Linked DNA regions of Homo sapiens. The protein of the gene in region 2 interacts with the protein of the main gene of each other region in a pairwise test. Each region holds a gene or a part of one and is shown on either strand. Other genes may lie near its edges.

What was found.
Region 1: the proteins of ACO2 (region 2) and C5AR2 interact in a two-hybrid assay, tested with the Homo sapiens proteins (one large-scale study listed by BioGRID and IntAct).

The regions. Positions count from the first base shown.
Region 1 is NC_000019.10:47,338,675-47,342,174, forward strand, and holds part of C5AR2 (C5a anaphylatoxin chemotactic receptor 2), read left to right. Parts: intron 1-1,812; exon of another isoform or gene 1,813-1,938; intron 1,939-2,110; 5' UTR 2,111-2,125; coding exon 2,126-3,139; 3' UTR 3,140-3,500.
Region 2 is NC_000022.11:41,521,117-41,524,616, reverse strand, and holds part of ACO2 (aconitate hydratase, mitochondrial precursor), read right to left. Parts: intron 1,788-3,500; coding exon 1,630-1,787; intron 1,413-1,629; coding exon 1,339-1,412; intron 788-1,338; coding exon 676-787; intron 1-675. UniProt on the Homo sapiens protein: Catalyzes the isomerization of citrate to isocitrate via cis-aconitate.

The DNA of each region.
Region 1 (3,500 bases), on a different chromosome or scaffold from region 2:
AATAATAATAATAATTAATCAGGCATGATGGTGTGCACCTGTAGTCCTAGCTACTTGGGAGGGTGAGGTGGAGGGTTGCTTGAGCCCAGGAGATGGAGGCTGCAGTGAGCTGGGAAAGTGCCGCTGCAGTCCAGTCTGGGCTACAGAGCCAGACCCTGTCTCAAAAAATAGTAATAATATAGTAATAATATTATTGTGGCCCGACATGGTGGCTCACGCCTGTAATCCCAGCACTTTGGGAGGCTGAGGCAGGTGGATCACCTGAGGTCAGGAGTTCGACACCAGCCTGGCTAACATGGTGAAACCCCATCTCTACTAAAAATACAAAAATTAGCCAGGTGTGGTGGCATGTACCTGTAATCTCAGCTACTTGGGAGGCTGAGGCAGGAGAATTGCTTGAACCCAGGAGGCGGAGGTTGCAGTGAGCCGAGATCATGCCACCACACTCCAGCCTGGGCAACAGAGCAAAACTCTGTCTCAAAAAAAATAAATTATTGCTATGATAGATTATGTCGCTTCCTTGCTCAGCACCCTCCTATAGCACCTGTCTCATTTGGAATAAATGATGATGTCCTTGCGTTGCCCACGTGGCCCTACATGCCGTGGCCCCTGATAACTGTTTTTCATTTGTTTTGTTTTGTTTTGTTTTTTTCTTTTTTTGAGATGGAGTCTTGCTCTGTTGCCCAGGCTGGAGTGCACTGGCATGATCTCAGCTCACAGCAACCTCCGCCTCCCTGGTTCAAGTGATCCCTCCTGCCTCAGCCTCCTGAGTAGCTGGGATTACAGGCGTCCACCATCACTCCAGGTTATTTTTGTGTTTTTAGGAGAGATGGGGTTTCACCATGTTGGCCAGGCTGGTCTCAAACTCCTGACCTCAGGTGATCCACCCACCTTGGCCTCCCAAATTCCCGTGATTACTGGCATGAGCCACTGTGCCCGGCCCCTGATGACTCTGCTATTGCCTCTCACCCTCTCCCTCTGGCAGATTCCACTCCAGCCACACTGGGCTCCTTGCTGTTCTTGGACATGACCGTCATGTTCCCACCTCAGGGCCTTTGCACTGGCTGTTCTCGATGCCTGAAACACTCTTCCCCCAGATCTCGATGCATCTCTCCCACTGTTCCTTCAGATTTTTATGCAAATGTCACCTTCTCAAGAAGCCTTCCCTGACCATGCCTGTACAACTCCAACATAGCCAGCTTCCCTGTGTGATATTTTTCCCATAGTATTTATTATCTTCTAAAATACTGTGGATTTTGGATTTTGCTCATTTCTTTCTTTCTTTTCCTATTTTTTTTTATTTTTTGAGACAGAGTCTCTCTCTGTCATCCTGGCTGGAGTGCAGGGGTATGATCAAGCTCACTCAATCTCCTGGGCTCAAATGATTCTCCCACTTCAGCCTTTTCGGCAGCTAGGATCACAGGCACGCATGACCATGCCTGGCTATGTTTTAAAAAATTTTCGTAGAGATGGGGTCTCCCTATGTTGCCCAGGCTGGTCTAGAACTCCTGACCTCAAGTGATCTTCCCACCTTGGCCTCTCAAATCGTTGGGATTACAGGCCTGAACCACCGTGCCCAGCCCCAATATTCCAATGTACTAGGGTTCTGGCATTGTAATATTCTAGAATTCCAAGATGCCACTTCTAACAACACTAAGTTCTAGAATTCCAATTTTTTTTTTTTTTTTTTGAGATGGAGTCTCACTCTGTCTCCCAGGCTGGAGTGCAGTGGTGTGAGCTCAGCTCACTGCCACCTCCACCTTCTGGGTTCAAGAAATTCTCAGCCTCCCAAGTAGCTGGGATTACAGGTGCCCGCCACCACACCCAGCTAATTTTTGTATTTTTAGTAGAGACGGTGTTTCACCATGTTGGCCTGTCTTGAATTCCTGACCTCAAGTGATCCACCTGTCTTGGCCTCCCAAAGTGTTAAGATTACAGGTGTGAGCCACCACACCCGGCCTAGAATTCCAATATTCTAAAGCACTGGAGTCCTTATGACGCAATATTCCAGTTTGCAAGGTGCTGGTGGGCCGGGCTGATGGACACCCTAGATCTCCAGGGCCATGGAGTTTCCTCCTCTGAGTTTTCATCGTCTTTCTCTCCTGCCCAGACACCAGGAGCCTGAATGGGGAACGATTCTGTCAGCTACGAGTATGGGGATTACAGCGACCTCTCGGACCGCCCTGTGGACTGCCTGGATGGCGCCTGCCTGGCCATCGACCCGCTGCGCGTGGCCCCGCTCCCACTGTATGCCGCCATCTTCCTGGTGGGGGTGCCGGGCAATGCCATGGTGGCCTGGGTGGCTGGGAAGGTGGCCCGCCGGAGGGTGGGTGCCACCTGGTTGCTCCACCTGGCCGTGGCGGATTTGCTGTGCTGTTTGTCTCTGCCCATCCTGGCAGTGCCCATTGCCCGTGGAGGCCACTGGCCGTATGGTGCAGTGGGCTGTCGGGCGCTGCCCTCCATCATCCTGCTGACCATGTATGCCAGCGTCCTGCTCCTGGCAGCTCTCAGTGCCGACCTCTGCTTCCTGGCTCTCGGGCCTGCCTGGTGGTCTACGGTTCAGCGGGCGTGCGGGGTGCAGGTGGCCTGTGGGGCAGCCTGGACACTGGCCTTGCTGCTCACCGTGCCCTCCGCCATCTACCGCCGGCTGCACCAGGAGCACTTCCCAGCCCGGCTGCAGTGTGTGGTGGACTACGGCGGCTCCTCCAGCACCGAGAATGCGGTGACTGCCATCCGGTTTCTTTTTGGCTTCCTGGGGCCCCTGGTGGCCGTGGCCAGCTGCCACAGTGCCCTCCTGTGCTGGGCAGCCCGACGCTGCCGGCCGCTGGGCACAGCCATTGTGGTGGGGTTTTTTGTCTGCTGGGCACCCTACCACCTGCTGGGGCTGGTGCTCACTGTGGCGGCCCCGAACTCCGCACTCCTGGCCAGGGCCCTGCGGGCTGAACCCCTCATCGTGGGCCTTGCCCTCGCTCACAGCTGCCTCAATCCCATGCTCTTCCTGTATTTTGGGAGGGCTCAACTCCGCCGGTCACTGCCAGCTGCCTGTCACTGGGCCCTGAGGGAGTCCCAGGGCCAGGACGAAAGTGTGGACAGCAAGAAATCCACCAGCCATGACCTGGTCTCGGAGATGGAGGTGTAGGCTGGAGAGACATTGTGGGTGTGTATCTTCTTATCTCATTTCACAAGACTGGCTTCAGGCATAGCTGGATCCAGGAGCTCAATGATGTCTTCATTTTATTCCTTCCTTCATTCAACAGATATCCATCATGCACTTGCTATGTGCAAGGCCTTTTTAGGCACTAGAGATATAGCAGTGACCAAAACAGACACAAATCCTGCCCTCAGGGAGCTGATATTCTTCTAGTGGAGGAAGACAGACTATAAACAAAGATATATAGGGCCATTTGCGGTGGCTCACGCCTGTAATTCCAGGGCTTTGGGAGGCTGAGGCAGGTAGATCACTTGAGGTCAGGACTTCAAGACCAGCCTAGCCAATATGG
Region 2 (3,500 bases):
TGCAGGGCCGGGCCGGCAGTGCTGTTCTCTCTCCTCACAGCTATCCTGGAGGGAGTGGGGGCCCTGGCGCAGAAATGCTGGTATGATGCAAACCTGCTCAGTGCGCAGGACACTAAAAACATGGAAGGAGCCATTCCTTCACCCATTTAGCAAGACATATTTGTAGAACACGCAGATAAACAACCAAGTCAAGAGAGCCTGGCCATGTGCCAGTCACGGCCAGGGCTGAATACCGCCAAGGGCAAGGCTCACTCTGGCCACGGGAACAATGGCAAAGGCCTCGCTTTTGTGGAACTCCTACCTGGGGTTGGAAACTGCATGTGTCCCACGCACTTTCCCAGGTAATCCCGAGGATTACGGGGACACAGAGAAGGTAAGTGACTTGGCCACACTCATACAGCGAGTTAGAGGCAGGGCTGGGATGTGTCCTAGGCAGTGAGTGAGATTCCAAATTCCATGCTCATAAGCACAAACCACTGTATAAATATCTCATAATCCCATGACCCAGGGAGCCCCAGGCAGGAAGCACCAAGCATGCGCCTGAGGCTGGGAAGGCCTGTAGCTCCTGGCTACCACTTGGATGACCCCAGTCCCCATCTCCTTCTGCCTCCTCCTCTGACCCGCCAGGGACCCCCAGAGGCCATCCCAGGCTTGTGCGCAGCTGGGCAGTCTCACCTCTGGGGACGTGACAAAGGCATGGGTCTCGGGGTTTGCGTCGTTGCGGCCCGTGAAGTTCCTGTTGTAGGAGGTGACGATTGTGTTCTTCTCCCCCTTCTTGATGTCCTTCCTGCCAGGTCAGAGGGATCAGGGTTAGGGATATCTGGCCTTGTCACCTGGCCTGTCCCGAGGACAGATAAGCTGGGTTCCTGTGGCGCAGCCCAGCCTAGCTCCTACCGAGGGAAAATGAAGAGGCCCTGCCAGGGTTGCCTCCTCCTGGGGCCACGCGCAGAGCAGAAGGGAACCTCAGGATCACTGGGCCCAGCCTGCAACCACACGTAAGCCAGAGGCAAGGCCTTGGTCAAGGCCTGAGTTTCCTGACCTGGGGCACTGCCTCCTCCCAAACGGCTCCTGCTGTGTCCGTCAGGGTGAGGCCGCGCTGGCTTCCTCCTGCCAGCCCAGGCTTCAGCCAAGTTGCCCCCCAGTGCCTCTGCAGGGCCCTTCCTCACCCAGCCCCTCTTCCCAGGCATGTCTGCCAGAGGCTTCTAATGGGCAAGAGTCCCTGGAGCTAGAGACCTTGGCTGGAGTCTCTTCTCTCCACCCCAATAATTCCCCCTCCAACTTCTGGGGCTCTGTACCCTGTGCACAAGGGGCTGTCTTGTCAAAAGATACGCCTCTTACCTGTCCCACTGGCCAATGCAGGGGCCACAAGCATTGGCCAGGACAATGCCACCCAGATCCCTCAAGATCTGTGCCTGCCAGGGAGAGAGGAAGACAGAATGTCAAGGGTGGGTGAGAGTCTGATGGGAAGGGGTGATGTGGTGGCTGCAGGACGAAGTGCTGTACTGGAACCCCAGGGCAGCCACTGGGACCTGCCCCAGCCCCGGCCCAACAGGCCTCTGGGCTTGTGCCGCCTGGAGGCATTACTCAGCATGGGGTGGGGGAGATGGGCAGGGGGATATGGGCACTCACATAGCCGTCCCGCTCAATGGTGGCGCGGATCTGCTCGGAACCTGGAGTGATGGTGAACTGGGACTTGCACTTGAGGCCATGGGCCAGTGCCTGCTTGGCCACAGCTGCTGAGCGCCCCATATCTTCATAGCTTGAATTGGTGCAGCTACCAATTAGACCTGGTGCATTGTGGGTGGTGGGGTTAAGGGTCAGGAGGAGACAGTGAGCAGAGGTCTCCACCTGACTTCAAATTATCCAGACTTGGCCAAAAGAGTTCACCATCTGGGCTGGGCCAGAGACTTTTTTAACAGAGACCAGTTGCAAGCAACCGAAATATCCAACAATAAAGGACAGGCTAACTCATGACGTGGCGTCATTTGAAGAAAGATGCTGTAGCCATTGGCCATGATGCTGAACACATTAGGACTATGACCCCTTTTACAGCAATATCATGTACACGTGTAGGCACGTCAGAGGGCTCATACGAACAGCCATCCTTGATGGGCTGGGGCTGACAGGAGATGCTAATTTTCTTCTTTTATACTTTCTAGTATTTTCTGGGTTTTAAAGATTGTTTTATAATCAGGGCAATAAGAGTTCTTTTTAAAAAGTCTATAAAACCTGAATAACATCGCACTTTCTGTCTAGACAGTCTCTTTTTGTTGTTGTTGAGATGGGGTCTTGCTCTGTCGCCCAGGCTGGAGTGCAAGGGCACAGTCGAGGCTTGCTCACTGCAGTCTCTAACTCCTGGGGCTCAAGCAACTCCTCCTGCCTCAACTTCCTGAGTAGCTGGGACCCACAGGTGAGTACCACCACACCTGGCTAATTCAATAAATTGTTTTTGTAGAGACAAAGTCTCACCATGTTGCCCAGGCTGCTCTTGAACTCCTGGGATCAAATGATCCTCCTGCCTCAGCCTCTCAAAGTGTTGGGACTGGCCAGGCGCGGTGGCTCACACCTGTAATCCCACAACTTTGAGAGGCCGAGGCAGGCAGATCACTTGAGGTCAGGAGTTCCAGACTAGCCTGGCTAACACAGTGAAACCCCCATCTCTACTAAAAATACAAAAATTAGCCAGGCATGGTGGCGGGCGCCTGTAGTCCCAGCTACTCGGGAGGCTGAGGCAGAACTGCTTGAACCTGGGAGGCGGAGGCTGCAGTGAGCCGAGATTGTGCCACTGCACTCCAGCCTGGGTGACAGAGCAAGACTCTGTCTCAAAAAAAAAAAAAAGGGTTGGGATTACTGGCAAAAGCCCATATAACCAGCCAAGATAGTTTCTTTTATTAATTTAGTAATTTACTTTCTAATTATTAAACCACCAAATATTTTTTTTCTTAAAATTACTTCAATGAATAAGGGCGAACACATTATATTGCCCTTATTTTCGGCCAGACGGTATAGAAATCTCTTTTCACATATTGTCACTTCTCCAGACAACTTTATTTTTTATTTATTTTTCTCATTGGTGATAGCAGCAGTAGGCCCAACACCACCTTCAAAGGTGTCAGTACGATCATGACTCCTGTTTTACAGATGGGGAACCCACACATAGACAGTGAAGTAGTTTGCTCAGGGTCACTCAGCTGTTAGTGGCTGTTAGGTGGCAGAGCCAGGATTCAAGCCCAGGCCATCTGGCTCCAGGCTCCATGCTCTTCACAGCCACACTGTACCCAGCAGCAGCAGATGCCAGTGACTGGCATGCCAGGGCGTCTGCATGTGTAAAGCATGAAAAGTCACATAAAGCAGCATGGGTGATATAAAATGTAAAACGGGAAAATCTATGCACACAATACACAGAAACACAGCACACCTCTCCAAGAGCTCTAAGAGCTTGCTCCTGGCTGGGGGTTGAGATTAGGAGTTTTAAAAATTCTTCTTGATTGTGAATATTC